Homo sapiens: one gene and its partner. The protein of the gene in region 1 binds, or shares a complex with, the protein of each later gene. Each region holds a gene or a part of one and is shown in the gene's direction. Other genes may lie near its edges. The genes, in order: LIN7A and CASK.

Region 1 (16,226 bases):
TTTTTTCATTTCTGCCATAGCGAACATTGAAGAAAATTGTATGGAGGGCCATCCAGCCAATGAGTCAAGCTGTAGTGTGGTGTGAAGGCCTGTCTCCATGACCTGAGAATGAATCTCTTCTCTTCATATTAACATAGAATATCATTAGTTCATGTGGATAATTTTGTTTGACATTCTGTAATTATACCTTTTTAAAATTCATCATCATTTTTCTATAATAAGTTTTAATACACTGGCAAGAAGGACCTCCTGTCACCTTCCTGCTCAAAAAGCTTTAGACTGAATGAATCTTAAGCTCCTTAAGGTAACTCTCAGAGCCCCCTGTGGTATCTTTCTTTTCCCTTTTCTACCAGCTTCTTTCTACTTTTCACAGGTTTCCACTTTCCTTCATGTCTCCCATGTTCCAGACAAGTAGACTGTTTCAATAATAAAACACATACCATCATTTCCTGAGTGTACATTTAGACATTCTGTTTAGTTCAACTGAAATGTTTTTCAATCCTACCTCCACCTAAAAACTCTTCTGTTTTAAAAGATCCAGCATAAATACCACCATATTCATGAAGCTTTCCATGTTCCATGTAATACTGTGTTCATATCTCTTATATATGGTGGTGCTTACCATGTCCTACCCTGTTTTGCAGAGAATTGTGATAAATATTAAGTTCCTGTAGGGCAAGGGCCACATTTTATTTATTTTTTTCTTGTAAATCTCCATAGAACATAGTAGATAAAACATCTTGTACAAAGTGAGCAGTTAATAACTGTAGTTGAACTGATTTTCCATTGTAAAATGTATTTTAAATGGAGATTATTTGCTGGGCAGTATATTGTTCTCTTACTCATTCTTTTATTTATGTATTTATTTATATTTTGGGACAGGATCTTGCTCTATTGCCCAGGCTGGAGTGCAGTGGTGTGATCATGGCTCACTTCAGTCTTGACCTCCTGGGTTCAAGTGATCCTCCTGCCTCAAACCCCACCTGAAGGAGCTGGGACTACAGGCCGCACCACCATGCTGAGCTAATTTTTGTATTTTTTTTTTTTTTTGTAGAGTCGGGGATTCACCATGTTGTCCAGACTGTTCTTGAACTCCTGGGCTCAAACAATCCACCTGCTTTGGCCTCCCAAAGTGCTGGGATTACAGGCGTGAGCCACTGTGCTGGCCTTCTACTTCTTTTATTCACAAATATTTATTGGGTATCAGTAAAATGCCAAGCAATGAATATGCAGTGGCAAACAAACATTGTCCCTCTACTTGTGGAATTTACAATCTAGTGTAATAACACAGTGTAGTATAAAGGGCACTGGACTGGTTGAAACTTGGACTTCAGTCTCAGCCCTGTTCCTCACCAACTAGGAATAGTGGGGCAGTTGATATAATCTCTCTGGGTCTCATTTCATTTTCCACTGTTGGTTAAATTTGATACTCGTAATGAGTATCAAATTCCATTATGGCTCAAAAATGTTTTCATATTTTGTCTTGATTCTGGAGCAACATGTTCAGATGGATGCAACTTGTTCTATGATATATTTGTCAATATCAGGGCTGTCTTTCTTTCTTTTCTTTTCTTTTTTTTTTTTTTTTTGAGTTGCTTTCTCTCTGTGTGCACCAAAGACAGAATCAATGTATATGGGTGCATAGTAAGTAACATCAAATAGAAATAAAGAAGTAAAAATCAGCTTCAAATATTTTAGTAGGCCTAGAATCATGTACTAAACATTAATCATAAAACAATATAGAATTAGCAGTGTATTGCTTTAGAAAAATGATGGCCACATTGGAAAATCCTGAACAGGAAGTTTCCTGGAGTCATGAGGGTTTCCTCCATCCACGTTTACTCAGTCAGGCAGTCATGATGGGAAAGATCATCTGCTCCAAATCAGTTCAGTGCTCTATGGAGAAATTGAGGCCACTAAGCAATAGCCGAACTATAGAGTATTACGCATTACTTTGAAGACTATTAAAAGAAGTAATTCACAAAGCTACTCATAGAGTCCATATTTTGGCATTTAAGAGGATTGAGAATGGAAGAACCTATATGGCCAAGGCAGTATCCATCAACTCAGGTGAAGCAGATCCTTCAAAAACTGATTAAACCTGGACCTCGATCCACTTTTATTAACTCTCTCTCTCTCTCTCTCTCTCTATATATATACATTTTATTAACTCTCTCTATATATATAACTTCTATATATATAACATATATATACACATTATATGTATATAACTTATGTATATCACTTATATATACACATATATGTGTATATATGTAAGTTTTATATATATATACACACACACACACACACACACACACACACACACACACTTAAAAAAAGAAAAACAAAAAAAACCTCTATGCAATATTTATTTCAATACTCTGTACTCTTCTCAGACCTAGTTTGGTCTCAGTACATGGCTTTGTTTCTTATATCACTAAATCCAGGGTCTTTGTTCAGGTTGGCTCTTATTCTCTCAGCAGCGCTTGTGACACAGCGCCCATTTCTTTTGTATTCCCTTGCTGTGTATGTTATCAGTCTCTCTTAGTTTTCCTTCTACCTCTTGTTTCTCCTTTCCTGGATCCTTTTCCTTTATATGAACTTTAAATGTAGGATTTCATCAGGGTTTAGTGTGAGACACTCCCCATTCAGTAGTCTTTCTTTGTGTGGTTTCCTCCTCTCTAGTAATTTCAATTATAATTCAAATGGTTTCCAAGTTTATACCTCTAGTTCAGGACTTTTCTTAGCTACAGACTCATAGTTCATCAATTATGACATAACCATTTTGACATCTCAAAAGTGTCAAACTTTGATGTCAAACTTCATAAGTTGAAAACTAACTTTTCTTCCCAATTTTTCCTTCAATATTTCCTACCGCCATTTATCCATTCATTCATGTCAGAAGCCTAGGAGGCACTTTTTAATATTGTGTCTCCTTTACCACTTGCATACAATCTTACCAAAGGCCATGGGTGTTATCCTTCAAGCATTTCTGGGATCCATCCACTTCATTGAATTTCAATTCCATCTTTGTAGTCCAAACCACTGTACTTTCTTACCTGGATTGCTGAATAACCTCTTTAATGGTCACTTCTAATTTATACCTGCTCCCTGCACCCTGATCACTCTTCACATTGCATTCAGATATTAAAGAAAATACAAATCTCTTTATTTCACTTACTCTGCTATTTAAGACTACTCCCATAACTTCCCATTTCTCTTGGGATGAAATCCAAAATCCCTCATGTGGCTTTCAAGACCTGTTATTTTTACCTTAGCTTGGCAGACTCTCTGGTTCTGCTTCCTTAAGCCACATTGACCTTTCTCTCTGCTTTTTGAAAGGGCCAAGTGCTTTCATGCCTAAGGTACCCCATAGGGTACCTGATCTTGGAATGGTCTCTACAACCCTCACCTTTGCTTGGTTAACATCTAATACTCATTCTTCACATTATACCGTAAGTGTTACTGCTCTGGAGATATCCTTTCTGAATCCCAGATCGGTTTATGTACCAGTTACAGGCTTTCTCATTGCACGATGTACTTTCCTCAATTGCATTTATATTATTGAGGAATAATTCCTACAAATACCAATAATTCCAGTTGGGTATTGGTGGTTTTGAAAACCGCTCAATGTTTAGTGCTTAGCACAGCATGTGGCACTTAGTATCAACTAGACATGAAATTATAGAATAAATGAACCAATCTCTCTCTCTCTCTCTATTTCTCCTGAAGCAAATGTCTTTCATAACCACTCCAACATTTTTTCCTAAGCTTTAAAAAAGCACCAGTAAGATTTCTGGAGTCTTTAGAAGATGGTGCAGGAAGTAAGGAGTGTTGGAGGAAAGAAAGAAAGGAGCTTATGATGGTGGTCACTGTCCACCATGATTTCCTAAATATACACACCCACCCATTCTGCTCCTGGGAGGCCTTCACTTGTTTTCTCCAAAGACAATAAAAGCAAGCATTGTAGCTGCTACTGACTTATGTAAGGCATAATGTTTTCAGTTCGGTTATTGTTCTACATCCATCTTTTTTGTATTTTCTCTTTATTACATGATTATTTGTGATGATGTATGCCAGCAACTTATTTGCAGAATTCACAACTGACTTCAGTATAGAAGTTCAAGAATGAATGTTTTTGAATGCACATACATATACACACACACACCCCTAAAGGAGAAAACAAAAAGAAATTAAAATTAAAATACTATTAGTCTTCGGAGACAGAAGTTTATCATGATGTTTCCTACATAACTACAAATTTGACGATGATTGTAGTTGCAGTATAGAAGATTTTCATGATGGTTCCCATATAACTACAAACTCGACACTGATTGTAGTTGTAATAAAGATAAGGCCAGTAGAGAGCACTATATGCACTAGCTTTTAAAATAGTCTTTGCATTACTAACTACTAATAAAATTTAATGAAAGAATAGTATTTATTGTTTTAAGTTGTACTTAGCTTTTTGATTCAGTTAATAAATCAACATGTCATTTTATTTGAAAATGAAAGTACTTAAACATCTCTGTGTTTTCATTGTGTTCCTATACTATTTCATTTAATGGAAATAAAATGTTCAATAAAACAAATATCTAAAAGTGGCTCTACTGTACAGCATAATGACTACAGTTAGTAATCTATGTATTCTTGACATAAGAGAGTGGATGTAAAGTGTTCTCATCACTATAATAATAATATGATGAGTTAATACATATGTTAATTAGCTAGACATGTCATTCTGTGATGTATATACTTAAAAACATCATGTGGTACATGATAAATACATACTTTTTTTTCCTAGTTGGAGTCTTGGTCTGTCACCACCAGGCTGGAGTGCAGTGGCGCGATCTCGGCTCACTGCAACCTCCGACTCCCCTGTTCAAGCAATTCTCCTGCCTCAGCCTCCTGAGTAGCTGGGATTGCAGGTGTGCACCACCAGGCCCAGCTAATTTTTGTATTTTTAGTAGAGACGGGGTTTCACCATGTTGGCCAGGATGGTCTGTATCTCCTTACCTTGTGATCCGCCCGCCTTGGCCTCCCAAAATGCTGGGATTACAGGCGTGAGTCACTGCAAAAAGCGGTACTTTTAGGCTTTTAATTTTTATCTTCCTTCAGACATATATACCATTTGTTTCTTAGTAGAAAATTATTGTCATGATCTCTTGACTTACTGAATAGTCAGCTGGATAGTGCATGATACCACGTATTTCAAATGGAAAAATTGTCATCAGTCTATGGTGACTAGTTTTTTGCTTTTAATCACTTTAGGTTTTATAAATTCAATTAAATATGACATTTTTATAAATAAGTGGTAACAAATGGCATATGAAAGAATGCATGCAATGAAGCAGGAATAAATCCATCGCAGGTATTATAATCTGGAAGCACAAAATTGAAAATGGCCACATTAGCACTGGATTATTCAAAATGACAAGGTCATAATTGAGTGGAGTTCATGTTTATAAAGATGCTATAAACAAGACTGATTTTCATTCATAGCCCTGTTTGAGATAGCAAAAGCCTAGAAACAACCGGAGAGTACACCTATGACAGGCTATTTTAATGAAATGTTATGAAGTAGTTAAGAAGAATTATATAGATCTATATGTATTGATATGAAAATATCACTAAAATAAAATAAATAAATATGCAAAATATAGTGCACAGTAGAATTCTACTTGGAATTTTAAAAAGATATGTGCACATGTAATATATGTTATATATATTTCATACAATATATGGTATTAAATATACAAAAAAAATCCTTCTTAACATTGATGACTTGTGATTGAGTGGGTTTCTGCAGTACCTTTTGAATTGTTTGACATGTGCATTGTCTTATGTTTAAAATTCCAAAACAAAAACTCTTGTAAAGGAAAGAATATATAAGATATATAAAAGAGTTAATAGTTTGTTTGCTTATCTTACCTTGATAAAGATGGCAGAGATTTGCTTGCTGTCTCTACTTTTTGGGGATTTCTTTGATTTGAGGTCTAAATAAAAATATTCAGGTTGGTTTACCACAATTAATCTATGCAATATTCTGGGTGACAGGAGCCTTGAGATACTAACATAGAGTTAAAACCATCTTCAATTGCCTCGTTTGCTCCCATTCTAGTTAAATCCCTAAAAGACTACAATAAAGTCACAACTGGATTTATTATGTGAGTAAATGCTTAAAGCAATAAGCAAAATTAAGAAAACTTTAGAAGAGGAAACTTCTCAGAGATACTGCATTTCAGGAAGTGGATCTGCCTTGTGTAATGGCATAGACTCAGGAATGGTATAAGGAGATTACAGGGTCAGAAAGGCCCACCTGAGGGGCAAGAGTGTAAGAGTTCCTCCAGGACCAGAAAAGCCAGGAAACCACAGAAGTTGAGAGTAAGGAACTCAGTTTTAGAGGAGCATAATTTGATCCTCCTAATTAGTTTTGAGAAAAGGGCACTCTATGTTTTAGGCTGGGCCCAGAAAGATGATATTTAAATATAAACTAACTAAAATTATAGCATTTTTTGCTCCAAATTAGAGCATTGGAGGATAAAACTAAAGAGAGTTTGGAATTCTCTACTGAATGTGCTGTCCATGCTAATTGTGCATTTAGCTCTTAAACTTGCTAATTACTGACATGTATGTTTCCCAGCACACTTAGAGTAAATTCTGTTACTAGCCCCAATTACTGTTCAGTGTAAGAATGTGAAGAATTTGAAGATGGCCTGTTCATCTGTTTCTTCCTAATATCTTTCATTAATTCCATACTACCAAAATTAGAGATAAATTTTGCTGGTGGAAGGAGTAAGTTAAGCTATATTTAAAGGGATAGAAGTCAGATATTGAGGTGCTCCTCAAGAGAAAGCCATTTTAACCATGTTTTAAATAAAGCCAGCGTCCCAAACAAACAAGTCCTAGCTATCATTAATGTCCTTTCCAAGTATCAGGTGGCAGTGTTGTCCCTTCACCATGGTAAGATTCCCCAGCCACACTGAGACTCTATTATATTCATTTTGCCCCTCCTCTTTCTTTAGTTTTTTATGAAATTCCTTAGATTCCTTTTATTTTATAAAAATAAAAATGAAATAAAACACATACAGGAATGCAAAAAAAAAAAAAAAAAAGAAGAAGAAGAAGAAGAAGTTCCTGGTCTACTTAGCAATCCTCTGATTCAAAGTTGCAAAGAGTAGCTCTCTCTGCTCAAAGGTAAAACATTCTCCTATCTACATGCAAGAAAGTAAATATTTCTAAGTTTCTTCTGGAAGTCAACATAAATTGCTTCCAGAAAGTCATCACAATCCACACTTACCTTTTTTATTTCTGTATCCCTTTAACACATATAAATTTATAGTATTGTTTATTATTGATATATCATTTTGTAATTAATTTTATGCTTTTATTTTCCAATTGTTTTGTAAACTCCATAAAAATATGAATGTCTCCTACTTCTAACTCCATCTCTAGTCCTGTGTCCTAGTCAGTACATACACATCAAGTGCAGTGCAGATTTGTTATTTTAAAAAATGTTCTATTAAGTACAATGTGACTTTTTCCCTGACCACTCTAAAGTAACCTCTTTCCCTGCTGTATATTTCATCACAACATCCTATTTTATTGTCATCATATACTTTGTGGTATGCTGGTAAATGTTTAACAAGTGGCTCTCTAGAGGGAGAAAAAAAAATTGGAATAGAGTATTTACCAATCCCAATGGTTTAAATACTGCCACCATGGTCAATCAAAAGATACCAATGTGATATAACTGAAAGTGATGTTGAGACAAAATGCACATTATTGGGTCTCACATACAGTGTGAATAGGCTTCAACACATCAATGTTCATGATAATCAATATCTAAGATTATCTGATTGAATGGCTAATTTGTATTTTATCTGTCTCTCTTCATCAAAACTAAGTTCCAGGCACAGAATAGTGCCTAGCATATTGCAGGTGCTTAATTTGTTGGACAAAAGCGTAACTTTTTACTCACTGTTAAATATATTTAAAATGTTTAGATGACAATGGTAATAAACATGTTTTTTAAATTGTTAAAGTTTGTGAGTTCTAATAGTTTAGAAATATCATCTCCTGAGCAAATGTGAGAAGAGACTGCTTTACTTTTAAAAATTAGTTTGTTTAATATTTCTTGTATTTCTAGACATTCGCGAGAGATGTAAATATGAATTTGGGATGAATAAAGAAAAACAAAAAACTAAGCTTTGAATTTAAATTTCATTATTGAAAGATCAGTCATAACTTCTAACTGTGAAAACAGAGAAGTGTTATTTCTTTCGGAGAAAATAAAAAATAATAATAATTAGAATTTCCTTTTTTTTTTTTTTTTTGAGATAGTTTTGCTTTTTTTTTGCCCAGGCTGGAGTGCAATGGCGTGATCTCAGATCACCTCAACCTCTGCCTCCTGGGTTCAAGCCATTCTCCTGCCTCAGCCTCCCGAGTAGCTGGGATTACAGGCATGCACCACCATGCCTGGCTAATTTTGTATTTTTAGTAGAGACGGGGTTTCTCCATGTTGGTTAGGCTGGTCTCGAACTCCCGACCTCAGGTGATCCACCCGCCTTGGCCTCCCCAAGTGCTGGGGTTACAGGCATGAGCCACCGCGCCCACTCTTAGAATTTACTTTTAATATTTTAATTTCATCCGAAATATTTTAACATCTAACTCTGAATTAGTAACTCTTCATTCTGAAGTTAGTAATTTTTAATGCAGATGCTATGATACAAATATTTTTCTTAGCATAGATTGTATTCATACATTTTATTGTATGGTTGGCACAAAGAAATTAATGAAAGGTTCATTGTATTTCTGTTCATTAATTATATTACCTTCCACCACCTAACTCTCAATAGCTCTATTTAGGCTTGTTTTTTTTTTAATTATACTCCAAAATGAACTGCCGATTTTACCCAAATACACACTGTGCCTGCTTCCTCATCCCTGGCTTTTCTCTCCTGCTCCCTATAAGGCCATTCTCCCTATCCCTGTCTTTTGTAATTCTGACATTATTCTAGATCTAGTTTAGTCATCAATTTATTCATTCTTTGCACAATACTTAGTCACTAATTGCTCTCTTTCTTGTTTGTTTATTGACTTTCTCTTCCTTAGAGAATACAAGCCAAGTGAGAACAGGAAATTTTTCTTCTTCACTGCAATACCCCAATGCCTAGTACAGTGCTTGGCATATAGTCAGTATATTAAGTGTTTGTTGAATGAACAGACAAATAAGTAGTTATCAAAAAAAAAAGATAAACTAAATATAGTAAGATATTCTATGATGGTTTTAAAAAATAAACATTTAAATTTCAAAGTATTGGTTGGCACTTCATCTTAATCTAGTGCTGTTTTGACAAAGCTGTATGAATTAAGAAAGATAACATGTTATCTTGAATCAGTCAAAAACAATTTCTAACACCCAGGCTGAAAGAACTCCAGTTTGAAGGTGCTATTTTCTCATATGAAACTGTGCTCATTATACTTCATTTATAATCTAACTAAACACATTTCCTTGGTATGCTAATGCTCTATGCAAACCTTCTCTAGATTTTGTCATATAATTTTTAAAAATTCAATTAAGTGAAACCGACCTTAACATAGCTTTGAATGATTTTGTTAAGAACAGATTTTATATATCAAATAGGCAGTTGTTTAAATATTAACCTATATGTATATATAATGGAACCAGTATCATAGTTCTTTTGTCCTTTGACCTAACTTCCCTTCATCCATTCCTCTCTCTATGTCTCAAGCCAACACACACACAAAATAAAAGAGAGAGAGAAAAGACATGTGTGTGTGTATATATACATATAATATATCATATATATGTATTAAATATATTTCACATGTATTAAATACATTAATATTATATTAAAATATATTTATAATATATATTTATATCTCTTAAAAATATATATCTTAATAGATATATATTTATATATCTCTTAAAAGATTTTATAACCATATATATACTTATCTGGAATTCTGAAATAAAAGGCTGAAATCACTAAATCTTCAACAACATAGAATAAAGTGTGATGAGGCCCAGCGTGGTGGTTCATGCCTGTAATCCCAGCACTTTGGGAGGCTGAGGAGACGGATCACTTGAGGTCAGGAGTTCGAGGCCAGCCTGACCATAATGGTGAAGCCCCGCCTCCATAAAAAACACAAAAATTAGCTAGGCATGGTGGCGGGCGCCTGTAGGCCCAACTATTTGGGAGGCTGAGTCAGGAGAATCGCTTGAACCCCGCGGGCGAAGGTTGCAGTGAGCAGAAATCGCGCCACTGCACTGCAGCCTGTGCGACAGAGTGAGACTCCATCTCAAAAAAAAAAAAAAAAAAAAAAAAAGAACAAAGTGTGATGTTTCTTAGTGGAAAGCACAGGAGATTGTGAAGCCAGGTGCTACTATTCTTAAGCAAGTTGTGTAACCTCTGTGAGCTTCAGTTTACTTATCTTCAAAACGGCATAAAAATACCTACTTCTCTGGGCTGGAAAGAAAGGGAAAGAGAGACCAACTTAGCACCAAGTCTGGCACATATAAGTGCTCAATAAGTATTTATTGAATTAGTTAACTCCATGAAAATATAGTTACCATTAAACTAAATTTCTACATATCATTTAATGAAAGAGTGTAGTGATTTTGTAACCAAATAGCTAAGATAAAAGCATAATTACAAATATTTTAACAATTCTCAGGTAAATACACAGCAAAGCAACTGGCATGTGACTAGATCAAGTATATCCCTGCATGTCTCAAAACGAAATTCACAAATATTATTGGAGAGATAGTATTTATTCATAAAAACAAATTCTAATGGATAATGAATTTTTATTAATTTTCTACACCTGTGTAGACATAAGCTAAAGGGAATGAACTTTCCACTACTAAAAATAATAACAGATGAATTTATGGTGATTTATGCTTCCTTTTAATTTCTCTTTTAATCTTGATTTAAAAACAACAACAACCCTACAGAGTCAACACAGAGAAAGAATGACAGAGCAAATTTCAAATAGGAAGCTCAAGGCAGAAGTCCAGAAATATGCTATGAAATGTTTAGTCCTGAGGATGCATTAGGAAACAAAAAGACAAAGAAAACTCTACCTTCACTGACACCACAATCAGGGATTTGTGTTGGAATGGGTACAATTTATGACTTTTGGGCTGATGAATCAAGCTGCTTAAATACATATTCCCTAATAAAGGATGTTGTAAAATAACTACATTAGAAGTCAAGGGATTTGTATGTTCTTTTATCCTCAGTTACCGAGTGAGGTTTAATAACTTTGTGCAAAAGCTTGTAACACACTCTGGTATCATTGCGCTCATCTCAACTTCTTTCTGTTGCTTAATTCAGGGCATGTGAATAACGGTAAAAAACCAAAGTTGTTTTTGCAACCTCTGGCCACCGAGGGCACTTCCTTTTAATAGTGCTTAGAGTACTGCACAGAAGCTTATGGTTTGCTCACTGTCTCCCAAGCAAGACTGGGCAGAAAGGGGGCCATCTCATTAATCTTTGCATGGTTAGCACCTAGCACAGAGCTTACCACACGGTTCCAGGGGATGTATGCTTGTATAAATAAATTTGTATATTCTTTACTGTTTTCAAAGCACAGTCACATGTATGACTCCATTAGACCCTCATAAAACTCTGTGAGATTGCAAGGTAGAATTAGTTTCCTCATATGACAGATCTCTGTGACATTGAATGATATTATTTCCATTGTATGACAGAGGAGGAAACAGGATCAGTGAGAGATTGTGTGACTTCCGAAGAGTACATGACTAAGACTCAAATGTCAAGATCAGCATTCTTTCTTAAATACTAAATAAAAATAAACATATCGAACTACTATTTTAGGTTTGTTCTTAGGGTCTGTTAAGTCTATATATGGCCAATCATCTTTGGCTTTCCCACATTGGTGAAATGTTGTTTTTTAAAATTCAATTGTAGACTATAAAATGAAAAAGACCTTCAGAAATCCTATCTGTAATCAGAAGAAAATGGCATCAATTATATGCAAATATTTTGCTATAAAACAGTATCTGCCTTTTAGAGTTTATTGTTAGCCCAAACAATTCAGCTCTGTCACAGGAAACAAGATGGAGGCAGCTTTGTCATTTCCAATCCTGCACCCACAGTCACCCCTATTCAGCTTATAGAAGGTTTCTTTATGTTTCTTGATTTCGTAGTCAGGAAATGAATCCCTACTATGACAAGATAGTGAAAGTAGCCTTTTTATTGGGGCGAAGAGGTCACAGCCAGTATTTGAAGGCTCTCGTAATTTAATCCTGATCAACTGACTCTAAAGTCAGGTTTTTAATAACACCATCTCCCACTAGATTACAGGCTACAGGAAGTCGGAGACTAAATTGAACTCCTAAATCAAGGCGTGGCACAAGGCAATGTAACTCTTCTATCTCAATTCCTGGCATATATGTTAATCAATCGATAAGTGGCATCTCTGAACCACTGGTTAGAAATCAACATGAAAAGTGCTAGGTACATATTTTTCAAACGTAGTCATAGACAACCAAAATCAGTTTGGACATTAAGAGCAAAGTTTTTGTTGCTGGGTGGGTGAGGGGGAGTGGGGCATGTTTACAGGATGTGGTATGTAAAAAATTCGGAGAAAATCTGAACACTGTACTTGTTTCTAAGCTACATTTACTGAATTGGTAATGTATTAACAGTGGCTTGAAAAAGAAAAACTTAGCGATAGAAACTTACCTACACGTTTTTTATTTTGAAGCACTTTTAAGAGGTTTGCCTTTTTTTTTTTTTTTCTCCAGGCAATATACTCAGGTCCTAAATGAACATCTACTGATGGAACGCTGGCCTTTAGTCAGTTATCTTTATATGCCGTTATAGGTCAACATTCCGAAAAACTTCAACAGAAATTAACTGCAAATGTAATTACATCCCAAACATTTCTGATAATGGAAGCATTTTCTCTCTAAAGGGGATGGGATTATTGGATTGGCAATTTCTCTTAATCTGAGAAAACTCATCTCCCACTCCCTTCCCCATATCCCCTTTCCATCCTCTCTCTTCCCCTTATACACACACGCACCCGCATGCACACACGTATATTCTGACCATTTTATTAGAGTGGAAAGTTGAAAGGAAGCAACCCGCCAGCTACACCCACCCAGCGCTCCTGGGGGTGGAATAGCAAAGTTCTAGGGCAGAGCCTTCCCTCCCAGAGCCCGGCGATGCAGTCGCTCTCGGATACCTGCTCAGCTCCGCACCGCAACTGAAGATCTGCCGCCGCGGAACAGTTGCGTCTCCATCTGGCTACCAACCCACCCAAGCTTTCTTCTCCACCACCACCACCTTCCTTCCTTCCCCCTCCTCCCCCTCCTTTCCGTCTTCCCTCTCCACCCCCGCCCCCAATCTCCTCCTTTTTTTCTCACTACGAGCGGTTGCTGATGCTGAAGCCGAGCGTCACTTCGGCTCCCACGGCAGACATGGCGACATTGACAGTGGTCCAGCCGCTCACCCTGGACAGAGGTAAGGGAGCGGCTCGCTCGCCAGGCCACCGCGTCCCCTCTCCCCTCCTCCCTTCCCCGCCTGCCAATTCCCAACGGGACATGGGACGCGCTCAGGCAGGAGGAGAAGGGGAACGAGGACGAGCCAGGAAGGCGTTCGCGCCGAGAACAGAACACTTTCTTCCCCTTTCTCTCCCCGCTACGTTCCCGCTGCCCCTTCCCACTGTACTCGCCCCGCCGAGGGGACGCCTCCTTCTGGCTCTGGGGTCCCCGCTGCCACTCCCAGCCCCTCGCCGGGTCGTCTCCGGTCCTCTGGCTTTGTTGGAGCCGCTGCGCGGGGACGGCTATAGGCGCCAGGGGCTCGGGGTTGGAGAGGGGCAGAGAGCAAGCTCGCCCGGCCAGAGCCCAGAGGAGACCGGCGAGGGAGCCGCCTGTCAGCTTGCTTGGCGCAGGGGCCCGGGAGGAAGGAAGTTTGTCCAGGCGCCGGAGGGCGAGGGTCGGTCCAACTGCTGGAGTCCCGGCGGCCACTCGGGGGGCGGGCTGGGCGCACCCCTGGGCTGCCGGGCGCACAGTGGCGGGGCTGCAGCAGGCAGGGAGCTGCCCTCTGCCGAAAGGGCAAGGCAGAGCGCGGGGAGCCGAGCCCCAGCAGCCGAGATCGGCTCTCCGCGGCTTCGAGATCGAAAGCGGCGAGGGTCGCGTCTGCTCCCGCCGCCGGCAGCTCCCGGTCGATAGCAACTCTCGGCTTCTCCCGCGCCAGCCTCTCGTGTCCTCTCCCAGCTCGGTGCCACCGCGGCGCCCAGGCTGCGGAAGGCGCGGGGACAAAGCGCAGGTCGGGTTAAAATTCAACTTCTGACCTGCCACCCAGTGAGTCCTGCTCTCTGACTTGAACGGGGAAAGTGTTCGCTTCCTCCCCAGGACGCCCTCACAAGCTCAGGGATGGAGTCCTCCGCTGCGATCGGGGCCTCACTGGTGCACCCCTGTGGGGTTATACCTGTCCCTGAGTGTGTGGGTTTCCTTCCTGGCTCCAGCGTCCAGTGATGAAGGCGCTCGAGTCCTACGGCTCTGCAGAGGAGGACACCCTCTAGTCCCTCTCCGCAGCCGCCGGATTTAGGACCCTGGGCGGCCATTTGGAAATGGTGTACTCAGAAGAAAATGATTTAGTCCGATGTACCTCTAAAAATTTTCTTTCTAGAGGATTAAACTGAACGATGGGCAAGGCAAAAGAACATCCTGCTGAGAGTACAGTAACAAAGCCAGTGAACTCAGTTTGAGGTTTTTAATTTGGAGAGACTGTGGGTGACTTTAACGCAATCTGTTGGCGCCAGAACAGATGTTCTGTGGTGCCCATAGCAACCTTTCTTAGGGTAAGAGTTGAAAAATAAAATGTAATTGATTTTATATTAGAAAATGTTGATTTGTAAGCTGGCAAAATTAATAACAGTAGTTAAAGACCTCAGAAATCCATTGTATAATCCATGATTTTACCCACAATATCATCATCTGCACTAAGCAGGATAAATCCATTGCCGGTAAGAACCAAACAGATGGCAAGCTATCAGAAACTATGAGCTTCCCAAGTATTTATGTTTTAATGTAATGAGCTCTTATATTGTCCCATTACAAAATCACAGTCGTTAAACATCCCAAATCAAGTGACTATGTTAGGAGCAAAAACTCCAAGAAGATTGCATACCTGGGTCATTTTATATACTACCACTACTACTAATAATACAAATATTTCAATGTTGGGTTTTACCTTAGCCCTTAGATGCCTCAGTCGGTTGATGAGAGGAGGTGCTAATCGGACTAAGATTTATTTTTAAAGTTTGCTCTTGTTCACAGCCAAACTCTACTTGTCCTTCTGAGTGTAATTACGTACATGCAGTAGCTCAGGAGACAAGCAGGTTTACCCTGTGGATGAGTCTGAAAAAATTCATCAGCAGCTCATGGAAAATCTATAACCAAGAGATGATGGGTTATTGGCATCACCACTGAGCATAAAGTCAATATATATAAATATTGTTCTCCGTATCTTATTCAAATATGATTAATTACTTTCATTATTAAACTGATGAAGGAAAAGGTTCTAAAAATTTCCCTTCAAAAAAGGTGCATTTTTAAAGAGGCAACCCAGTATTACATATCTGGGTCCTAGCTGCAACTCTGATACTCACTCTGCATACATCAGCCTCTCTGGACATCAGATTCTCTCTGTGCCACATCAGGAGTTTGAATTAGATGATTCTAACACTGTGCAGCTTTAGCAGTCTATAATTCAATTAATTAGAGTTAGGACTCAGTTTTTGGTCACCTACTGGGAGATTTTCCAGATCACCTCTCTCCCAGGCTGCTTTGGTACCCTTTGATGCGCTCTAAATTGACTTGCTGCTTTGGCCCCATTAAAGCATTTATCACACTCTGTTGCATTTGTCTATCCCTATTGGATAGAACTCCGTGAGGGAAGAGACCATTTCTAAATTCATCTTTGAATTCTCAGTGTCTGCTATAGTCCCTGACTCACAGTACAATAAAAAAATAATGTTAAGTTGGTGTAAGTAAACTCAGGATAGCAGTAACTTAAGCAATGTTAAAATATAGTGATTTCCTAGTGAACTGAGGTGCATTTCATAGATTCACAGTATTTTAACCATGGAAAGGATGATAGTGATAACATAGGCCAGAGATTCTCAACCTAGCTTTCCCCTATACACTTGATGGATTGCCGTCA
Region 2 (15,486 bases), on another chromosome or scaffold:
CATTTGCTAAAATGGCGTTTTTTGCATTGTGTTGATTATGAAGTAAAGCCACAGTGAAAATACTATGCTTTTTAAGTGCAAGCCGAACTAGAAGGTGATGATTAACTGGGGTCTTATCTACACTGTAGTACTTAACACTAACATTCAAAGCATGCCCTGTCCTGCTTTGAAATGCCAGTAAAAGAGGACAAAACAGGTAGGACATTCTTGGTTCAGAGTGCCCTGAGAGAAAAGATTGAGTTCCTGTCTGCTGTGGTGTCTGCGCATGCCCACTGCAGTGCCAGGACAGAATCAAGCAAGTCTCTTTATCTCACTTCTAGTCCCCTTTCTTGAGAGCTGTACCCAGAGAGCTGAGGCTTGCCTGGACCTCCCAGCAGCCTCCCAGGAAAGGTCTCTTGCCAATAACAGAGGGGCTTTAGAGAAGAGGAGAGGAGGGGAGGGGCCCTAAGCCAGTACTGGGTACTACGGCTCCTAGGTCCTTGAAGGTACCGCATCTTTTATTTTCTCTGGAGATCTGTCTCTGTCACCCAGGGCCCCAATTTCCTGGAAGAATTGCTCAGTCTCTTGATTTTAGATTTAATACTTGTAAAACCCTATAATGACTGGCACTAGTCAGACAAGTGCTTGTTCTTTTGACAGCATTTATTAAGCACTTACTATGTGTAAGGCACTATGCCTAATGCTGGGGCACAGCAATTACAGGGCACACAAGACAAGTTTATGCCCTAGCTGGAGACATAGCCACTAATCAAATAAAGAGGTATTTCGTTATCTCTATGTATATTTAAGACTCAGCCCAAGAGCTCACCCACCTAGTGTTTGGCAGGTAGGGGGTGGTTAATTTGACTCACAAAGTTCCCTAGTGTCAAGGTTGAACTTGCCCTTTGGGAGTTCAGCATGACAAATATGACTTGCGAAGATATAGAGGCAGACTTCTTTCTGGTGGCTCTTAAGAGACCCCTGTCTTGAAAGAACTGCCACTCTGTAGCAGAAGCTATACTTGCATGACAAAGCTGGGACCCTAAACTCCCTCCTCCTGTTGGATCCCTCTTACAAGAGTTCTTAAAATCTGTGGCAAGCTGCAGCTTAGGGAACATCCTTTGTTGCAGCAAACCTCCCTAGAGTTCAGTACTCCCTAGAGTTCTCTTCCTTCTGTTTTTTTCATAAGAGATATGAGGACCTACGAACAGTGACATTTGTCTAGCCACTTCTAATGCAGACCAATTTGGGGGGATTCATCAGATGCCAGGTGCTGTTTATTGGGGAAACAGCCTTATTCCAGCCATTATTTGTAACACTCAAAGATCTTTTGCCTCTGGCATCAGCTGCTATTGAGTGAGGGCCATTATATGTAATTGAATTCCTAGAACGTGTGGCACCTTTAAGTAGAAGAGGAAAAAATACAACTTAATTTGTCATCCAAGGGCAGGGACTTGTTGGTGCAAACACAGCTGGGCCCTGAGGCCTGGCTCCAGTGAGTGTGGAGGACCAAGGGGACGGGGGCAAAGAGCTCCAGCCTTGCCACCGTAGCCCTCTCGCCAATTGGGAGAGTGGCTTGAGGCTAGGGCGGGGGGCTTCCTGCTGGCCTGTTTGGGCCACCATAGCCACTGTAACCCACACCTGGCATGGCCCTACCAAGCCTGACTCTGGGGACAGGCACAGCTAGGCCTGAGTGGGGGTGGCATGTTTCCTGAAGAGTATCTGTTTTCTCTGGTTCGTCTGCTTTGTCATGGACCCTCTGTTGCATGTTGAGCAATCACTGTCTCCTCTGTCATGGAGCGGACTTGGCCTCATGCTGGCATATGGCATATCAGGGTCTGGCCTTGACTGTTTCTGACACTGGGATGAACAAAAATGTGAAAAGAGAACGAATCCAACTGATTTCTCTCTTCTGTTTGCTTTTCCCTCCTCTCATGCCCACCCCTACCTCCATCTCATCACCATTTAGGATGAATCTCTTCAGCGTCTGCAGAAGGAGTCTGACATCTTACAGAGAACATATGCACACTACTTCGATCTCACAATTATCAACAATGAAATTGATGAGACAATCAGACATCTGGAGGAAGCTGTTGAGCTCGTGTGCACAGCCCCACAGTGGGTCCCTGTCTCCTGGGTCTATTAGGCCTCTCCCCAGATATCTGAGCATAACTGGGAGCACCTCATTTGTGGAAAAGCCTCTTTGTTATCGGCCTTGTGTCAGCAGGTCATGGTCCCTAGAGACTACCTAGTTGTAGTGTGACCTACATTTATAATTATTGTCATGTCCGAATAGATAGGAGGAGAAAAACAATTACACACTAATTTAAAGAGACAGTATCTTTTTTAATCAGTTCTCCTAAACTTTAATAAAATGTATCTTTAAATGTATGTATTATTCAATCCTTTGGAATGTTATATTTTTGGAAATCATAGCTTTTTATTTCCAAGGCCCCTAAAAACTGCACAAAATAGATGCTGCTTTCTATAATCTATTTTAATAATAATAAACAATGATTCTGTTACCTTGACTGGGGGTGGAACACTACATTCTTTTTAGAGTCTGATTTTATGGATTGGAATATTGGGATATCTTTCTTTCCTTTATTTATTTGAAATAATTAGTGTAGTGATTACAAAACAGTCATAAATTTTTAAAGGCCTTTTTTCTCTCTTTTTTTTTTTTTAGAATAGTATTTTTTTTTAAGTCCTTTATGTAACATCCAGATAATGTGATACTGTCTCTTTGAAGCACCCTGTAAACCTTTTAGAGATTTGAAGTTGGGTCTTGACTCTTAATGCATGTGGACAGTCGCGAGCGTTTATGCTGTCGGTGTGTCTGTGTTGGACAAAACAATCTGTAATCTACAGCAAAGTACATTCTACATTCCGTTCATGGGGCACACCCAGGGGAATAAGAATAAAATGCTATTATGACTAAGTTGTAAACCTATGCACATCCCTTGCATTTTGGGCAACTTTATAAAAAAAAAGAAACTGATTTTTATTAATAATAATCATGTAGTGAAATGTGTTTGTAATTTTGTCTCAATTTAATTTGTTGTAAGGTGGGGTGGGGGGAATTGCTGGTTTCACCATTTCAGATCTGTGTTGTCTAAGAGTATTAACGTTTTAATTAAGCAAAGAAATGATTTTTAATCTGTATGTAATTGTTTTAAAGCACCCATTTTAAGAGAAAATACTGTGCAATGAAGAAACCAGTTTAGGCATTTGCTATAAACTGAAATATTCCAAAAGAATCATCTATAACAGCCCTGTAAATTCCTTTAAAATGATAACTAACAGGACAGTTTGACCAATTTTTTTTAAATATACTTCCTTTTATGTGTTCAATAATTAAATGCCTTTGGGTCCTTCATTTCATTATAGATTTGTTCAGGCTTCCAAGCTGATAATCTTTACAATTGTATAATTTGTTAGATGCTCATTGAACCTTTGAAGGCCCAGGAGTGAGTATCAGTTGGCAGGGTGACAAAGTAGCCTGCCAGAGCACAGCTGGACCACGTCTGACTCGCACAGAGCCATGCGCCCAAGGGCCACGGGTGTACTGGAGGCCACCTGTGGTCTCTCCTTCCTCTTGCTGTATCCCTTGGCACAGGGGAATCATCTGTCCTTGTTGCTTTAGAGACATTAACCATCTCATAACTCTTCCATGAAGTCACATTCTTCCAATACAGGAGATTCGGGCTGGGGTTCTCAGACTCTTTGCCAGAGGTCAGTAGAATGTTTTTCATTAGCATGTGAGGGTGTGAAGTGCTTATATTAACCTGTGATCCTTGAAAACATACCATCATTTTTTGCTTCTTGTAGGTTAGATGGCCTTGTCACTTTGTGCCTTGGCAGGATGTGCAGGGTGTGTTCTGAGCTGAACAGCTCCTCTTAAAGGACCAAACAGAGAAGGCATTAGTATACTTCTTTTACATTGTCAACACCATACCCGCCTCCGCCCCCCACCGCCTATTATTAAATGGTGGCGATTTTTTTTTTTCTGATGTTGTTCTTTGCCAGTGACCAGATGAGTCTGCAACTTACTAACAAGGTATTGAGTGAACTACTTCTGTATGGGCCCCACAGTGGGGTGACCAAGCCACCAAACCAGAGATAAGCTCAACAGTGGTCTCACACTAGATAGAGAGAGAAACCTTCAAAGAGTTGGGTAGGGCTGTGTTAGAACTGATTCGAATCTGATAGATGCCAAGGCCAGACAGTCGTTCCTGGTATGGTACTGACCACAATTTCGGGCTCTTAGTGTGAAGGTGCGCACTCTACCTCTTTTCTGGTGAAGCACAAAGACAACTACAACTAACACATGGGAAACAGAAACTTCCCTCCCTCTAGTGGAAACCCCCACGCCCCCACTTGCCCTTTGAGCCCACATCTCCAGAGATGCTGATGATGCCTGTCTTAAGCCATCTGCCATATTTATAAAGGTGGATTAAGCAGAGGAGGAGAAAAGCAATGCCAACTTAAATGTCTGTGGCCCCACAATTCACAAGCACTGTAGCACTCATCCTCAGTGGCTTTATACGTCCTCTGAGAAGCACACAGGCAGGCATCATTCTTGCCATCATTCCGATGGTGAAATCCCTGCATGCAGAACTCATTGACTTCTCAAAGATGTTACCTGTTCCATTCCACTAATACATGTCTTCTCTAAAGCAGTGTCTTTATGACCTAGCTGCATATACTTACATTTCTGAATTCAGAGTAATTTCAGTACATTGCTGCTGCTGCTGCTGCTGCTGCTGCTGCTGCTGCTGCTGCTGCTGCTGCTACTGCTACATTACAATTGTCCACTAAGCAATCAGAGAAAATTGCTAAAAGCTTCTTTACTGCTTCCATTCCATCAGCAGAACCTTTTTTTTTCTTTCTTTCTTTTAAAGACCAGAATGAATGTTTAGAGTACTAAATCTTATTAGTGGTCAATTGAAGTATTGGAGAGCCACATTTTGAAGGTTCTCTCCCCCACCCAACTCCATTCCCCACAGCAAGAAAGGGAGTGTTTTTATATGTTGAATTCTTTGTTAAAAAGATGAAATGTCCTGATTTTCCAGTCACAAGACAGTAATTACTTTGCACATACAGCATATCCCATTTTAATGCTAAAAAGGGAAATGTCACTCAATTTAATTCATCTGGAAGTTTCCCAGTGTCAAGATAACATTGTAGCCTTTTTAAATGCAATTAAATGTATCTCTTGTCAGGTGAGATGATTTAAAATCTTTGCTCAGAGAGGAAAACAAATGGTTGACCTACTTCTTGCTATTTGCATTCAGAAGGCATCGTCCCAGCCCATCCTATTGGTGGCAGAATATCTAAAGATGTCGCAAAGTCCCCCACTGCAGTAGAAATGCAGGAGGTGTTCCTGTTCCCCGTCCAATTCCTTCTTAGGCTGCTAGAGACAGCCAGTGGGCCAAGCCTTCCCCTGTGCTCCAGGCAGGCCTGGGCTGCAGCTACTGTTACCTTTTTACAGCCTTTGATCTGATCGCTGCAGAGTTCTTTTGTTTTTAAATCACTTGTATTTGTCTCTTCATTAAGGCTTCAAGTTTATTTCTTGAAAAAGTTTAGTCAATTGAACCACCCTCCAGGAAGATTCCCAGCGTGGAAACTGCCCCTGAAAAACAAGGCAGCCCAAAGCCAGCTCTCTTTTGTCCCCCACTGATGTCATGTCCTTTTTTTTTTTCATTTCAGGCCAGTTTCTTAACTTGGGGCAAAGAGAATGTGTTGCTAAAGCTACCAAGAAAACTGCTTGATTAACAAATTCTTAATAGAAATGCCTCCCACACTGTCTCTTTGAAAAGAGAAGGCACCTTGGAATCGGCATTCCAAAACCAAGCTCCTTGTCATCCTCATCCCTCCTCCTTCTTGCTTCCTATTATCAAACTCGTGTGTGTTTCTTGTTTTCTCAGAACTGAACACAGCCTCCTAATTCCATCCTCTTGACTAGGGCTTACAATACTGAGAGCGATTACAGGCTGTAATAAGTTAAAGGTCCCTGAGCGTGGCTTTCTTGTTCTGCGCCTCTAATTAATTCTTCTATTAAAAGATGCTTTCCTTCTCACTGCAGCTTACAGAAAGGCTACAAGCTTTAATCACAGATCATTTCATTTGCCAGAGCCTTTCCTTTTCTAACTCCTTTAGAAATAAGATTTCCCTCTCTGTTTGGAATCTCTGGATACAGGACTCTCCTCCAAGCTCATGGCTTGATTGGCTTTGCCTGTGCACACACACATCAGTTTGCCTTAAACTTGGAGCTATGGGGAGTCCCAGATTTTCCAGCTTAGTGGGTGAAGTTTAGCTGTCACCTACATCCAGGAAGTGGGGGAAAAGGGAAAAAAAGAGGATATTCACCACCATGTTCCCATCCGGTCTTTCCCCTGCCTTGCTTTGTGCAGCAGGTGGGCAGACAGAGCCCACAGAAACAGAAGTAGAAAGAGGGCCGCACCATCTCTGGGGCCAGCACTCCTAAGTCTTAGCTCTTTGTGGGAATAGAAAATCCTGAGCTCCCACCACCTCTCGTCTGACCCTCCATCAACTCCCTCGAACCTGTGCAAATGGACTGAGCAAAAGAAAATGGAAAGAGATGTTTGTCACCACACAGGAGACCTCCTTTCTGGCCCCAAGCACAACTCCATCTCTGCGTATGCTCAGAAACTCAGAATTTAGCTGCTACTTATGTGTTAGCTCCATTCTCTCTGGTGTGTGACTGAGAGAACACGCCAGTGTTCTTACTGACAGAGGCTTAGGGGTGACCCTCTCTGGACCCAGAGGAAGTACAACCTCTGTAGCGAGAATTGTCCTTGGGAACAGAAACAGGCATTCCTCCACAGTGAGTGGCTCCCCCTATTTTTTTTTTATTTGGAAGAGACCAAGAATTGGGGGAATTGATTTCCAGTCTTAGCTGTTTCCCGGAATGTCATCTGTGCAGGCAGGTAGGCGGCTGCCGGGTGCAGCAGGCAGCGTGACTGATGTGAAGGCCGCCCAATCCTCACGTGCTAAGACCCGAGTATCGTGTTTAATTGCAGTGTAGGCACGTCGCCATTCAAACTCAGTTCTGGGGTGGTTTTGCATAAAGTTTTGCCAACGTGTTCTTTTTTCTGTATGTATTATTGCCTTTTTATAAAAGGTGTTGAAGTATTGTCTCAGTGATAAAAAGAGAGAGATGTTAATGGTTGTTGTATATTTCACCGTATCCAATTGTAAGTATTTGCAGGGTACAGCAGAGCCTTAGCTTGCAAGAGCGTTTGTGCAGGAGGTGTCCCTCAACACCCAGGAGCTGAAGGGATTGGAAAGGTTTGGATTCTTTGTAAATGTCCTGCTTTTCTTTCTCTCTGTGTGTATCTATTTACATGCCTTAGCACACGCCCTCCCATCCTGATCCCTTTGCCCTGTCGCCGGAACAACCAGAATGCTGGTGCGCTGCCGGCACAGTACAAGTTGATGAAACCCTAATCAGTTATCTTGTGTGACAGGGGAAGAAGAGAAACTCCATAGTATTCCTTGTAGAATATACATACCTGTAGGATGCTGTGTAATGGGAAACCATAGAATTGGGCTTTTGTCATTTCAAAGTTGGAGAAATGTATGAATAAAATGTATAAAACATGAAAAGGCAGTTGTCTCCTCAGATTGCAGGCCAAACAGCTTGGGGACAAACAACAGAGGGTTAAAAGAAGAGGGATGGCCTGATTTCTAAAGGCCTCTGCAGAGTTCATCCACACAGTTAGGCCTCAGACACCTTCCCACAATGGTTGGGGTGGGGTGGGGGTGTTGCAGAGGGACAGCTCCTGGCCCTGTAAAGGAGCACGACCCAGGCTCCTGGTGCCCATCCTGCAGGTTTCAGTCTTCAGCCATGGCTGTTAACAGACGGCATCCTGCAAGCAGTTCCAGCTCAGTTGCTTGCATTTGGATGCAGGCTTAAAATAGCTTCATCTTAAAAAAAAAAGAAAAAAGAAAAAGTCTAAGTTGTGACATCTCCTAGAAATAGAAGTCTAAATTGATTTCGGTGGTGTAGGTGCCACAGCATGGAAAATGTGGCCCTTGGTTGACATTTGCATCAAGAGCCGTGGGAGGACGCCTGCTCCAGGACTGCCGCTCCGCCCAGTGCCTTTGTGATTTCATGGTTTGATTTGGTCTCTGGCTGGAGTCTGGGACATGCTTCCTGGCGTGCCTCACTAACCTGGTTTACACACGATTCCTTCCCTGCCCTTGCCCTACGCTTTGCCCAAGCAAGGAACCATGGTGGCTTCAGAGACAACACTTGTATGTGTCACACACACCCTAGAAAGAGCCCAGGCCTGAATGAGCTTACCTGGCTCACTTTCAGAAGACACATACGAAGGAAACATAAACTACCAGTGATTATTTGCTTTACTCAAATAAATATCACGCTACAAAAATTGTATAGAAGAGTTTAGGCCACATTCAGACCCAAAATTTGAGCCCCTGGCCTTTTAGTTCAGAAAATCCTGTTACCTTTGTACAGACTTCTTACCCTAGATATACAGAGGACGGAAAGCAAAATGCTACCATTAAGCTCATTTTTTGAACTTCATGGTATTTAAAACACATCCAACATGGTAATATTAAGCTGGTCGAAAAATATAAACATGTCTTTTCTGTGTTTTTGCCCAATTTGCTATAACATGATAAACTGAAGAAATAACACTAGGGATCATTCCATGAACCGCTATGAACAGCACATCATGCAGAAAGAATGCAATGAGATTGGTGCAGGGTAATAGACAGAGTTCAAGGTCACTGAAGGTTGCAAGTCCCATGAAAGGTCAGTGTTGTAGTGCAAGTAAGCCACCCAGCCACTAAAGGAAGGGATGCTCTGGGAGAGAATGTTCCAGAAAGTGGTATGTGACTTTAACAACAAGTGAGCACACACACAAGGCATGGGGCCTGCAGATAAAATCCCATGGCTGTGGCACTGTCGGAAATACTGCACCCACCACACGTATTCCCTAATCTCCTCACCCATCATTACCTTTGAAGCCAGGTGCAGTGGCTGTCTCCTGTAATCCCAGCACTTTGGGAGGCCAAGGCGGGTGGATCACTTGAGGTCAGGAGTTCGAGACCAGCCTGGCCAACATGGTGAAACCCCGTCTCTACTAAAAATACAAACATTAGCTGGGCGTGGTGGCGCGTGCCTGTAATCCCAACCACTCAGGAGGCTGAAGCAGGAGAATCCCTTGAACCCGGGAGGCAGAGGTTGCAGTGAGCCGAGATTGTGCCACTGCACTCCAGCCTGGGTGACAGAGCAAGACTCCATCTCAAAAAAAAATTAAAAAATAAACCTTTCAGGCGGTGGTGCCCAGAAATGTTTTTGCCATAGATGCATTCTTAGGCAGGATCTTGAAAAGCTTCAATCTACTGCTGTTGCCCTCTTCGCTCCTCCAAAGGCAGCTTTATAACCCTCCCCCCATGGCCACTTGCCCTGCAGAGAATCTGGCTCCTTTCTGCCACCAGAATGGTCTGATGAACAACTTGAGAGTGACAGAGGGGGCAGCCTGCTGGGACCTCAAAAGTGGCTTCAGGCCGGGCACAGTGGCTCATGCCTGTAATCCCAGCACTTTGGAAGGCCAAGGCGGGCGGATCACCTGCGGTCAGGAGTTTGAGACCAGCCTGGCTAACATGGAGAAACCCTGTCTCTACTAAAAATGCAAAATTAGCCGGGTGTGGTGGCACATGCCTGTGATCCCAGCTACTCAGGAGGCTGAGGCAGGGGAATCGCTTGAACCCGGGAGGCGGAGGTTGCAGTGAGCGGAGATTGCACCACTGCACTCCAGCCTGGGTGACAAGAGGGAAACTCAGTCTCAAAAAAAAAAAAAAAAAAAAAAAAAGTGGCTTCGGGCCTGCAGGATGTTAAACTGAGGCCGGAGATGGGGAAATGGAGACCATGTACAAAGCAGGTGGCAGCAGCTTAGCCACACAGATCAACAGCTTACCACAGAATTTCCCTCAGAACTTTCTGGGGGTGGTGGAAATGTTCATTTCTTGTTTTCAGTGGTGGTTGCATGGGTGTATACAATGGTCAAAACACATCAGACTGAACACCTAGGATCTGTGCATTCTATTTTCTGTAAAATATGTCTCAGTTACAAAAAAGAAACAAGGAAAACCATGATCATCTTTGCAGCTGCCAAAAAAAAATCACTTCACAAAATTCAACACCCAGTTCTAATTTAAAAACAAACAAAAAACCCTTAAAAATAAGATAGGAAATATTCTTAGCATATACAGAATAACTGTTTCAACCCACAGCCAACATAATCCACCTAGAAGTGACAGAACAAAAGCAGTAAAATTGCCATTATTTAAAAATTAAATAACACGTGATCATCATAGAATGATTAGAAAATATGGATAAACAAACAAAAAAAAGGGAGATTCAACCACATTCTGCTATGCAGAGCCAACTGCTATAAACATATCTATGTATATCTGTCAGGCTAGCAGGCTAGTATAAATTTATGTATGTGTGTGTGTGTGTGTGTGTGTGTGTGTGTGTGTGTATATATATATGTTTTGCTTTTTGGTTTTTTTTTTCATTTTTGAGACAGGTTCTCACTCTGTTGCCCAGGCTGGAGTGCAGTAGCATAATCACAGCTCACTGTAGCCTCAACCTCCTGGACTTAAGTGACCCTCCCACCCCAGCCTCCCCAGTAGCTGGGACTACAGGCCTGTGCCACCACACCCAGCTAATTTTTGTATTTTTTGTAGAGATGGGGTTTCACCATGTCACCCAGGCTGGTCTCAAACTCCTGGGCTCAAGTAGTCTTCCCACCTGGGCCCCCCAAAGTGCTGGGATTACAGATGTGAGCCACACCTGGCCCTATACATATTTTTAATACAGTAAGAAAGTCATACTAAACACACTGTTCTATTACATAACATATCTTCCTCCATCATAATTATTTACTATTGCTTTTATTTATTTATCTTTTTAGGGTCCCACTCTGTCACCGAGTCTGCAGTGCAGTGGTGTGATCACAGCTCACTACAGCCTCAAACTCGGGCTCAAGGCATCCTCCCACCTCATCACCCCATGTAGCTGGGACTACAGGCACCACCATGCCCGGCTAATTTTTGTATTTTGTTATTATAGAGACGAGGTTTTGCCATGTTGCCCAGGCTGGTCTCAAACTCCTGGGCTCAAGCGATCTGCCAGTCTCAGACTCCCAAAATGCTACTATTGCTTTTAAAGCATTTCTCAACAACAGAACAGAGTATAACCATTGGAAAAGACACAAAATTGTCCATATTTGCTAATAATATCATTGTATACCTTGAAACACAAAAAAGGACAACCAGACAACAAGTAGCTGAGTTACAAAGCAGCTACTCGGGAGGCTGAGACAGAAAAATCACTTGAGCCCAGGAGGTGGAGGTTTCAGTGAGCTGAGATTGCGCCATTGCACTCCAGCCTGGGTGACAGAGCAAGACCCTGTCTCAAAAAATAAATAATAAATAAATAATAAAGAGCAGATACAAAAACACCCAGAAATCAATAGCATTCTTGTATATTCACAGTAAAGTTAGAAAATTAAATGGGGAAAGGATGCCATTCTCAAATGCAACAAGTGTTTTCAAACTAACAAATCCATGGGATCGATATGAGAAAAGGGCAAAGCTGCACTGAGAATATAAAAGATGCAAATAAACAGAGACATGTTTTTGGATGAAAGAATTAAATGTTTTAATGGCATCAGTTCTTTCCAAATTAATGTAGGCTTAATATAATACCAAATCAAATGCCACACAATGATTTTTCTGGGCCTTTATAAAATGACTGTTCATTGGCCGGGTGCGGTGGCTCACACCTGTAATCCCAGCACGTTGGGAGGCCGAGGCAGGCAGATCACGAGGTCAGGAGTTCGAGACCAGCCTGGCCAACGTGGTGAAACCCCATCTCTACTTAAAAAAAATACAAAAATAAGCCGGGTGTGGTGGGGCACACCTGTAATTCCAGCTGCTCAGGAGGCTGAGACAGGAGAATTGCTTGAACCCAGGTGGGGGAGGTTGCAGTTAGCCGAGATTGCACCACTGCACTCCAGCCTGGGTGACAGAGCAAGACTCGGTCTCAAAAAAAAAAAAAAAAAAAATTATATATATATATATATATATATATATATATATATATATATATATGTATACCAAAATTAGTTTCAGCCCAATTAAAGAGTTAAATATTAAAATTCAGTGCTAGAAAATGAAAACAAATAGAATGAGTAGTCAGTAAAACTCTGGAAGAGGGTAACTTTTTAACCTTATGCCGGAGAAAAAAGTCAGAAAGCAATTGAAAGATTTGACCCCATGAAACCATTACAGCATTTTTTTCTTTTCTTTTTTTTTGAGATGGAGTTTTGCTCTTGTTGCCCAGGCTGGAGTGCAGTGGCGTGATCTCGGCTCACTGCAACCTCCACCTTGTGGTTTCATGCAATTCTCCCACCTCAGCCTCCAGAGTAGCTGGGATTACAGGTGCCCACCATCACACCCGGCTAATTTTTGTATTTTTGTATTTTTAGTAGAGACGGGGTTTCACTATGTTGGCTAGGAATCTGATCTCAAACTCCTGACCTGGTGATCCGCCCACCTCGGCCTCCCAAAATGCTGGGATTACAGGCATAAGCCACCACGCCCGGCCAAAACCATTACAGCTTTGATATGAAAACTTGTAGACCACAAACAGAAAAGAAAGGCATTTTACAGCAAATATAATACACAAAGAGTTAATATATTTATTATGCAATGAAGACATAAAGTGGTTAAAAATGCTAACATTCCAACAAATGAACAAAGGACATGATGAACATTGCACAGACTATACAGAGAGCTACTATTAAAAACATTGAAAAATATCTCAATGATCAAGAAAATGTAAGTGACACAGTGGCTCGCGCCTGTAATTCTAGTACTTTGGGCAGCTGAGGCAGGTGAATTGCTTGAGCCCAGGAGTTCGAGACCAGCCTGGGCAACATGTCAAAACCCCATCTCTACAAAAAGTACAAAAATTAGCCAGGCGTGGTGGCATGCGCCTGTAGTCCCAGCTACTCAGAAGGCTGAGGCGGGAGGATCACCTGAACCCGGGAAGTGGAGGTTGCAGTGAGCTGAGATCCTGCCACTGCACTCCAGCCTGGGTGACAGAATGAGACTCCGTCTCAAAATAAATAAGTAAATTTAAAAAAAATTAAAATAATAAAGGCAAACAGTACATGGTGGCACACACCTGTGGTCCCAGCTACTCAGAAGGCTGAGGCAGGAGGATCACTTGAGCCCAGGAGGTCGAGGCTGTAGAGAGCCATGATTGCGCCACTGCACTCCAGCCTGGGTGACAACAAAACCCTGTCTCTAAATAAATAAATAAAAATAAAGGCAATCAAGCTGGGTGTGGTGGCTCACGCCTGTAATCCCAGCTAGACAGGAGGATCACTTGAGGCCAGGAGTTTGAGACCAGCCTGGGCGACATAGCAAACCCTGATTAAAAAATTTTTGTAAAAAGGCAATCAGTACCATTGACTGAGCCGTCACTCTGATGTTCCGGTCACTGAGTGCTTTGCATGCCTCAGCGTACCTCCACCCTGAGTCCTCTGACCTGAGGGCTCTTAACCATAAATATTACTAAATATCCCCAAATTTAAACAGTGCTTTATGATAGGATAATCAATGAAGTTTTTCTTTATTTTACAAGTCTACTTGTAATATTTTATTTATTTATTATTATTATTTATTTATTTATTTTGAAACAGAGTCTGACTCTGTCACCCAGGCTGGAGTGCAGTGGTGTGATCTCAGCTCACTGCAACCTCCGCCTCCTGGGTTCAAGTGATTCTCCTGCCTCAGCCTCCCGAGTAGCTGGGATTACAGGCGCCTGTCACTACGCCTGGCTAATTTTTGTATTTTTGGTAGAGGTGGGGTTTTGCAATGTTGGCCAGGCCGATATTGAATTCCTGGACTCAGGTGATCTGCCCGCCTTGGCCTCCCAAAGGGCTGGGATTACAGACCTGAGCCACCGTGCCCAGCCTCTGTACAGTTTTTAAAGTGAATCAACCTGAGCACTTCTTTTATGGCTGCCTGATGGGAGCGTAGCAGAGAGCATGGCCTGGGAATGGCTGACGCCAGCCACTCTCCGGGTCCGCTTTCACCATGTCACTAGGCCTGGCTGCCACCATCAGGAGCCTGGGAACATTTCTGCTTCCCTGCGAGGACACCCTTCTCTAGCCAGCCAGACCTGAGAACTGGGGGCTCACAGAGTGGCAAAGAGGAAAAGGGACGAAGTCAAAGGACACCTCATAGCAAGACATGAAATTCAGTCCGAATAATTTATTCATCCCAATAAGTGCTTTGGATTTCTGCCTAAGAACTCAAGCTGGCAATTTTCAGCTAAGTGAGCTACACAGCTTGTTCATCTAAACAAACTGCAGTGGCAGAGTTGTACTAGGCTGAAAAGCATAAACATCTTAAGGGCAGAGTTGTCCAATCAGAGAACAAAATATATTAGTGAGCTTAAGTGAAGTAGTGAACACAGTGTGCAGGGCCCTAGGAACAGAATAGAGATCCCAGAAACAGAGCCTGGGCGGATGAAAAACTGAAGATGACAAAGATGGGACTTCAGGCCGGGCACGGTGGCTCACGCCTGTAATCCCAGCACTTTGAGAGGCCAAGGCAGGCAGATCACCTGAAGTCAGGAGTTTGAGACCAGCCTGGCCAACGTGGTGAAACCCCGTCTCTACTAAAAACACAAAAAATTAGCTGGGCGTGGTGGTACACGCCTGTAATCCCAGCTACTCGGGAGGCCGAGACAGGAGAATCGCTTGAACCCAGGAGGCTGAGGTTGCATTGAGCTGAGATCGCATTATTGCACTCCAGAGCGAGAATTCATCTCAAAAAAAGAAAAGAAAAAGATGGGACTTCAGTGTAGTGGTGAAATCATGAACTCTTCAAGAATTATTCATATGGAAAAAATAAAATTAGATCCCTACCTCATGATACATAAAAAATAAAATTTTAGATGGCTGAAAGGTCTGTGAAAATCTTAAAATATTACATACACATACACACATACACATATACACACACATATTGGGCTATATATATATACATATATACATATACACATATATACATATATATACACATATATACATATATACACATATATATACATATATATACATATATACACACATATACATATATACATATATACACACATATACATATATACATATATACACACATATATATACATATATACATATATACACACATATATACATATATACACACATATATACACACATATATACATATATAATATATATACATATATACACATATATACATATATACACATATATACATATATATACACATATATACATATATACACATATATACATATATACACATATATATACATATATACACATATATACATATATACACACATATATATACACATATATATACACGTATATA

Evidence for each region.
Region 2: LIN7A (region 1) and CASK share a complex: the UniProt entries of both Homo sapiens proteins name them as parts of the brain-specific heterotrimeric complex.

The regions. Positions count from the first base shown.
Region 1 is NC_000012.12:80,934,935-80,951,160, reverse strand, and holds the start of LIN7A (protein lin-7 homolog A), read left to right. Parts: upstream 1-13,226; 5' UTR 13,227-13,438; coding exon 13,439-13,520; intron 13,521-15,327; exon of another isoform or gene 15,328-15,425; intron 15,426-16,226. UniProt on the Homo sapiens protein: Plays a role in establishing and maintaining the asymmetric distribution of channels and receptors at the plasma membrane of polarized cells.
Region 2 is NC_000023.11:41,507,059-41,522,544, reverse strand, and holds the end of CASK (peripheral plasma membrane protein CASK), read left to right. Parts: intron 1-208; exon of another isoform or gene 209-392; intron 393-1,948; coding exon 1,949-2,125; 3' UTR 2,126-7,611; downstream 7,612-15,486. UniProt on the Homo sapiens protein: Multidomain scaffolding Mg(2+)-independent protein kinase that catalyzes the phosphotransfer from ATP to proteins such as NRXN1, and plays a role in synaptic transmembrane protein anchoring and ion channel trafficking.